Linked DNA regions of Homo sapiens. The protein of the gene in region 1 interacts with the protein of each later gene in a pairwise test. Each region holds a gene or a part of one and is shown on either strand. Other genes may lie near its edges.

What was found.
Region 2: the proteins of SLAMF1 (region 1) and MAP4K1 interact in binary tests that used the Homo sapiens proteins (3 or more experiments, as listed by UniProt).

The regions. Positions count from the first base shown.
Region 1 is NC_000001.11:160,644,163-160,648,594, reverse strand, and holds the start of SLAMF1 (signaling lymphocytic activation molecule isoform b precursor), read left to right. Parts: upstream 1-1,550; 5' UTR 1,551-1,649; coding exon 1,650-1,725; intron 1,726-4,432.
Region 2 is NC_000019.10:38,586,836-38,590,560, reverse strand, and holds the end of MAP4K1 (mitogen-activated protein kinase kinase kinase kinase 1), read left to right. Parts: intron 1-1,285; coding exon of another isoform or gene 1,286-1,383; intron 1,384-2,743; coding exon 2,744-2,813; 3' UTR 2,814-2,920; downstream 2,921-3,725. Other genes in the region: RYR1 (ryanodine receptor 1), read right to left, coding at 3,141-3,236. UniProt on the Homo sapiens protein: Serine/threonine-protein kinase, which plays a role in the response to environmental stress. Appears to act upstream of the JUN N-terminal pathway.

The DNA.
Region 1 (4,432 bases):
TGCTGACAAGGATGTGGAGAAAAAGTACCCTTGTACACTGTTGTTGGGAATATAAGTTAGTACAACCACTGTGGAGAATGGTTTGAAGGTTCCTCAAAAAACTAAAAATAGAGCTACCATATGATCCACAATCTCACTGGTAGGTATACACCTAAAAGAAAAGAAATCAGTATATTGAAGAGATATCTGTACTCCCATGTTTATTACAGCACTATTCACAATAGCCAAGGTTGGAAGCGACCTAAGCGTCTATCACCGATGAGTGGATAAAGAAAATGTGGTACATATACACAATGAAGTACTATTCAGCTAAAAAAGAATTAGATCCTGTCATTCACAATGACATGGATGGAATTGAAGATCATTATGTTACGTGAAATAAGCCAGGCACAGACAGACAAACTTTGCACGTTCTCACTTGCTTGTGAGAGGTAAAAATTAAAACAATTGAACTTGTGGGCATAGAGAGTAGAAGGATGGTTACCAGAGGCTGAAGGGTAGTGGGGGTTGGGGAAGAAGTGGGGATGGTTAATGGGTACAAAAAAATAGAAAGAATGAATAAGAACTAGTATTTGATAATACAACAGTGTGACTATAGTCAATAATAATTTAATTGCACATTTAAAAATAAAAATATAATTGCACTGTTTGTAACACAAAGGATAAATATTTGAGGTGATGGATATCCCATTTACCCTGTGTGATTATTACATATTGCATGCCTCTATCAACATATCTCATATACCCCATACAAATATATGCATACCCCATACATATATATATACATACACACACACACACACACACACACACACACACACACACACACACATATATGTATATCTACTATGTACCCACAGACGTTAAAAATTAGAGGAGAAAACACACACACAACAAGGAGACTGAGCTGGAAGGATGGAGCTCTGGGATAGATTTGTCCTACATCCCTGCCTGGGAGGGAATCCACACACATGCAAGAAGACAAACTAGGAGCATGGGCTACTAAATTATACCACATTGCACTCATCGGGGTCACAGGGTTTCTTCCAAGTGACCCGCACATGCCCTTCCCATCTCTGTGTGACAGTGGCACCTGCACCAGACTGCATGTTGAGGTGTCATCTGAAATTATGAAATAAAACAGAAGTAAGAGGTCTATTAGCTCATCAAAATGCAGTTATCTAAGTTCAGCTGTGAACTGCCAAATTTGAGGAGTGATCCAATGAAACATCTTTTCTTTGCAATCCAAGAAGACTTACCGGAGAGAACTGCTCAGAGAATCTGCAACATCCGGTTCCTGGAGACAGCTAAGGAAAGAAGCTGGGGCGCATGTTTCTGCCCAAAGCCGGGTTTTGGCCGAGGTGACTACACACCCCCTTTCCTGGCTCCCATAGGCTAAGTGCCTGGCTTCTTGAGAAGCCTGCTTCTTGAGAACAAAAAAGTGATTTAAAGCCTCATGGGAGATGAGCAATCCTCAAGACACAAGCAGAAAAAGTCCCAGTGATACAGGAAGCGGGTTCAGGAACCTGCTGGTTCCTGATACATAAATCAGACAGCCTCTGCTGCATGACACGAAGCTTGCTTCTGCCTGGCATCTGTGAGCAGCTGCCAGGCTCCGGCCAGGATCCCTTCCTTCTCCTCATTGGCTGATGGATCCCAAGGGGCTCCTCTCCTTGACCTTCGTGCTGTTTCTCTCCCTGGCTTTTGGGGCAAGCTACGGAACAGGTGAGTGTTCATCTGCCTGATGGTTTGAGTCCCATGTTAGCTGCCAGGAATCAGCGTATCTTCGTGGATGGAGAGAAGGTGCAGGGCTGGGTATTGTGTTTGGTCACTCTTCCTTAGGGACTGGCTGTCAGTTTCAACTGCCTCTTTCAAAGAGGAAGGAACATTATAAGTTCCTGGGCCCTTGGGTTTCCAAGACTCAGCCCCACCAACCCCAGTTTCCAAGGAAATGAGGGGCTCTAAGCCAAAGGCTCCAGTCACTTTTCTGACCAGTCTTAGGGTGACAGGCCCTGGTAGAAGTCTTGCTTGAGTGGTTGGTTTTACATGGGCATCTTCTGGCAAAGACCCAGCCTAGAGAGACTGAGCTGGATGGACTGAGCTCTGGGAGAAGATTTGCCCTACATCCCTGCCCTGGGAGGGAATCTGTGCACATGCAGGCTGACAAACCAGGAGCATGGGTCAACAGAAAGCATTGGCTAGAGTGGGAAGAGAGAGTAGAAGTGAAAACTCCAGGCTTTTGGCTGAGAACCAGCAGTGGCCACAGTGCGGTCATACTGGTGTGTATTTTCTTGGAAGAGAAGGTCCAAGAAAGCAAGAGGGAAGAAGTTGGGATTTCTGAAGGCTAGGGCTGGTTACAGTATGTGGGAAATGCAAATTGGGAACCCTCAGAGAGTAGCTCCAGCAGGAAGGCCAGACAAGAGCTACCTTTGGATCTGGACTCTGTTCCTGTCTTTCTGTCTATCTTCTTCCCAAGGCAGGCTATTGCTTTCTGTTTAGAAGTATCAGGGCTATGAGAAAAGGTATTTGAGAAAGAAAAAGCCAAGCAAGAAGTGGACTTTGGACTGCCTGTGTGAGTGGGGTGAGAATCTCCTTCTGCTTATTTGTTTAGACTGTGGGAGGTAGCCTGGAGTAGAAGAGGTGGCATTACGGACACGGGGGGAAATCCTGAGGCCCAGGGTGTTTTAAGCTTGGGGTTTTCAAGACCGCAAATCCAATATGGACTTTTCCAGGAAAAGCACCGTGATATGCCAGGGATGTGGGGGTGCTGCACAATGGATGTGTCTTTTACCAGACAGCCAGACGAACAGGGCTTGCTCAGCCCACTTTCTTTTGGAATCTGCAGATCCATGGCTCGTACTTCCCAAGGTCTAGGGGAGGAAGAACTGAGCTCGGGGCTCAGAAAACCAAATCGAGCCACTTTAAGTGGTCACAGGGAAAGCCAAGCCTCCGTTGTTGCAACCAATTTGTGACTGCACCATTTCTGGAGCACCTCTTGGTGACTGTAAGGTGTGATGGAGTGATGGTGCTGAACTGTGAACTGGACTTTTCCATCTCTGTGCTTGCTAGCCTCTTGGCCAGCCTGGCCCATAGCATCTTAGGCACTGCTGACCAATAGCTCGTCTTATTGAGGCTTTGGAAGTCGCCGGTCAGGGAGAAGCAACCCAGCCCCACAAGGCAAGTCTATCCAATCGGAGGCTGCTCACTTCATTGCATGTTTTCTTCTTTGAATCTTCACAAAAGTTTTTCAGTGTTTTTATTTTTAAATACACACCCTTTTGTGAAGCCCCAATAAAACCCAGACAGAAATGCTTTGCAAATGGGGCAGGTTAGTCATGACAGATTTGCCCAAGCAAGAAGCTTGATTCTTGTAAAACTGGCATCCACTCCCATTCTCATTTCTACTCAGCTCAACTTCTAATTCCCAGTCAGAATTGTAAAAATCAAAAAGTCCACATGTCCCTTCCCCAAGTAAAGTGAATTTTTCATTTCCCCCGATGAGATTTGTTTTAATAGACTTTATTTTTTAGAGCAGTTTTAGGTTCACAGCAAAGTTGGGCAGAAAGAACAGAGATTTCCCATATGCCCTCTGCCCCATACATACATAGCCTCCCCTATTATCAATATCCCCCACCAGGATGGTACATTTGTTATAATTGATGACCTTATGTCAATGAGTTTTTTTTATTCCTCCATGCAGTTCCTCTGCACCCCCTTCACACACTTTGGGGGAAGGTGAGGGACAAGTGCGTGGGTTCTAGACTTGGCCTAACCTTGCGTGTTCAGTGGCCCATTCTATCCCAAGATGTCAATCTAGGCACTTCTATTTCTCAAAAATATTAATACTGTGATGTGATGCTGTCACTTTCACTGTCTCCCTCACTGGACTGGAAATCAGAGTATCAGGGCTAATTGGTTTAATCCATAGATTTGACTTTGAATGATCCCATTCAGCAACTATTAAGGACACATGATGTGGCAGCCACTGTGCAAGGGTGCAAGGTGTGGGGAAAACAAAATGAACAACAGCCACTGCCCAGCACCTGACACTGTGTCTGTACTGAGAGCCTGTCCACAAATATTTGTTGAGTGAATAATACTGGTATATACTGCATACTTGCCATATACCAGGCACTGTTCTAAATGCTTTATGTGTGTCAGTCATTTCATTTTCACACCAACCCTATAAGAAATGTATGTATTATTGGTACCATTACAACTTTATAAATGAGGAAAGGGGCACAGAGTAGTTTAGCAATTTCTCTGCGCTCACATAGCTGCCTGACTCCAGAGGCCTCAATGAGTAAAACTGGACAAGCCTATGTTTGGGAAGCAGGGGTGGAGAGAATGCCAAAATTTGTATCCAGGTCCCATGGTAAAAATTAGAATGTGCTATCTATAATTGAAAAATATGAGTTGAATTGAATTGGAA
Region 2 (3,725 bases), on another chromosome or scaffold:
GTTGCAGTGAGCCGAGATTACGCCACTGCACTCCAGCCTGGGTGACAGAGCGAGACTCTGTCTCAGAAAACAACAACAACAACAACAAAAAATTTCACCCGTTGTCCTAGTGACGCCCGTGATTATATATATATATATATATATATATATATATATATATATATATTTTTTTTTTTTTTTTTTTTTTCTGGTCCAAGATCATAGGTGGCACTTAGGAGCCATGTTTCTTTATAATTAAGCCGGAAAAAATAATTAAAACTTCTTTTGTCTTAAAGGAGCTTTGACCTTTTTAAAAATTAAAGGAAATTTGTTTTCTAAAATGTCCCTTAACTGTGTTTGAGGTTTCCACGTTCTGAATTTTGGGCAGGAATACTGCAGAAAGATGTCTTTCTCAGTGCATCATTTCAGGAAGTACACAATGCTAGTTTGTCCCATTACTGGTGATATTAACTTCGGTCATTTGGTTAAGGTAGAATCAGCCAGTTCTCTCCACTGTGAAGTTGCTTTTTTCTCCCTTTTTCTTTTTTTTTAAAGATAGATTCTCTCTCTGTCACCCTGGCTGGAGTGCAGTGACGCGATCATGGCTCACTGCAGCCTCGACCTCCTGGGTTCAATCAGTCCTCCCACCTCAACCTCCCGGGTAGCTGGGATGACAGGCGCGTACCACTACACCTGGCTTATTTTCGTATTTTTTGTACAGACAGGGTTTCGCCATGTTACTTAGCCTGGTCTGGAACTCCTGGACTCAAGAGATTCACCTGTGTAGGCTTCCCAAAGTGCTGGGCTTATAGGCAGGGGTCACCGCACCCAGCCTCTGTTTTTCTTTGTAATAAGAAGTATCCCACCGGTCGGGCGCGGTGGCTCACGCCTGTAATCCCAGCACTTTGGGAGGCCGAGGCAGGTGGATCACCTGAGGTCGGGAGTTTGAGACCAGCCTGACCAATGTGGAGAAACCCTGTCTCTACTAAAAATACAAAATTAGCCGGGCATGGTGTTGCATGCCTGTAATCCCAGCTACTCGGGAGGCTGAGGCAGGAGAAGCGCTTGAACCCGGGAGGCGGAGGTTGCAGTGAGCCGAGATCGCGCCATTGCACTCCAGCCTGGGCAACAAGAGTGAACTCTGTCTCAAAAAAAAAAAAAGAAGTATCTTTTGGGGAGATTCACTGAGACGAGGTAAATAGTCTGTAAATACGTTGTTTCTCATCAGATTTTCACCCACTAGTTTTATTGTTTTTTGTTTGTCTTTTGTTGTTGTTTTGAGTCAGAGTCTCACTCTGTCCCCCAGGCTGGAGTGCAGTGGCACGATCTCGCCTCACTGCAACCTCCTCCTCCCAGGTTCAAGCAATTCTCCTGCCTCAGCCTCCCGAGTAGCTGGGATTACAGGTTTGAGCCAACGCACCTGGCCTGCCCACTAGTTTTAGAATCAATTGATTTTTCCCTGAATCTATTATTGTTAGGTGGCTACTAACAATAAATGGTGATTTTCTGATTCTATGTTTCCTTCTGCGTGTGTTAGTTGGCATTCTACTCTAAAGAAGAGCTGTGTCTTCTCCATTCTTCTTTCTTTATACCAGCATGGTCTCATGGATTTTTATTCTGTGGGTTATAGTCTATTACTGTCATTATTTATTTATTTATTTATGAGATGGAGTCTCGCTCTGTCACCCAGGCTGGAGTGCAGTGGTGTGATCTCAGCTCACTGCAACCTCTGCCTCCCAGGTTCAATCGATCCTCCTGCCTCAGCCTCCCGAATAGCTGGGATTACAGGCGTGCACCACCATGCCTGGATAAATTTTTTTTTTTTTTTTTGAGACAGAGGCTCGCTCTGTCGCCCAGGCTGGAGTGCACTGGCGCTATCTCGGCTCACTGCAAGCTCTGGCTCCCAGGTTCACGCCATTCTCCTGCCTCAGCCTCCCGAGTAGCTGGGACTATAGTGCCTGCCACCACACCTGGCTAATTTTTTTTTGTATTTTTAGTAGAGATGGGGTTTCACCGTGTTAGCCAGGATGGACCTGGATAATTTTTGTAGTTTTAGTAGAGATGGGATTCACCATATTGGCCAGGCTGGTCTTGAACTCCTGACCTCAAGTGATCTGCCCCCCTTGGCCTCCCAAAGTGCTGGGATTACAAGCATGAGCCACCATGCCCGGCCTTGTCATTATTTATTTTGAGGCACAAATGGTCTTAAATTTAGCCAGTGGGAACCACTTTAAGTAGCCCCTGTGTCCTTTTGACATGCCAGAAGGGTCACTTTAAATCCAAATCTGATCGTGTCACTGTCTCCCTGCTTAAAATCCTCCCATGGCCTCAAGATAAAGACTCAATCCTGGCCACAGCCCACAAGGCCATGACATCTCCAGCCAAGTCCCAGCCTTTCTCCCACCTCAAATCCTTTGCACAGGCTGTTCTCCCCAGCCAGAACACTCTTCCTTGCCCTTTCACCAAGTTCCCTCCTAACCCCCCTTCAGGCTGCACCATCCATTCTCTGGGGAGTCTGGGCTGACCTCCTGGGTTAGGTTTCCCTGCCAGACATGCCATGCTTTTTTGCACTCATGTAATTCACTGATTCATGTTGATCTCCTTCTCTAGAATGCAAGCTTCCTAAGGGCAGGGACCGTGTCTGCCCATTCACTGCTATAGTTCAGCATGGGGCTGGCACAGTCTCTATTAACTACTTTGTGAATTAATGAATCAATGAACATATGAATGAATAAATGAACTGACTTATCTCTTCCTTCCACAGGCCTGTAGTGGTGGAGACACGCCCAGTGGATGATCCTACTGCTCCCAGCAACCTCTACATCCAGGAATGAGTCCCTAGGGGGGTGTCAGGAACTAGTCCTTGCACCCCCTCCCCCATAGACACACTAGTGGTCATGGCATGTCCTCATCTCCCAATAAACATGACTTTAGCCTCTGCTGTCATCTTGTTTTTCTTGGGGGAAACAATTCCTGGATGTCCACTCCTCCAAAATTTCAGCAGGCCAACACAGTGATGCTGGGGGGCGTAGCACAGATTTATTTTCCAGTACTAGGTCACCTCTCCCCCAGCTGCCTTAGGGGGAGGGGCTTGGGGACTAAGGGGCTTGCTGTGAGAATAAGGCACTTGAGGTGGGGGTGGAGGGCCAGCTGGGGGTGTGTCAGCTAAGCTGGTCCTCATACTGCTTACGGAAACAATCACCAGCTGGGAAGAAATCCCAACATCTCTCTTGGTACATCTTCCAGACATAAGACTCCTAGGATTGGGGATAGAAAGAGTTCATTGGTCACATCTTCAAACCCTTGAGACATATATATATATATATTTTTAGACAGGGTGTTGCTCTGTTGCCCAGGCTGGAGTGCAGTGGCGACAATCACAGCTCACTACAGCCTCCTGGCTCAAGCGATTCTCCACCTCAGTCTCCAGAGTAGCTGGGACTACAGGTGCACACCACCACCCCTGGCTAATTTTTTAATAGAGAAAGGGTCTCGCTGTGTTCCTAGGCTGTCTTGAACTTCTGGTCTCAAGCAATTCTCCCGCTGTGGCCTCCCGAAGTGCTAGGATTGCAGGCGTGAGCCAGGACGCCCAGCCCAAACCCATTTTTTTTGAGATGGAGTATCGCTCTGTCACCTAGGCTGGAGTACAGTGGCATGATCTTGGCTCACTGCAACTTCTGCCTCCTGGGTTCAAGCGATTCTCCCACCTCAGCTTTCCAAGTAGCTGGGATTACAGGCATGCACAA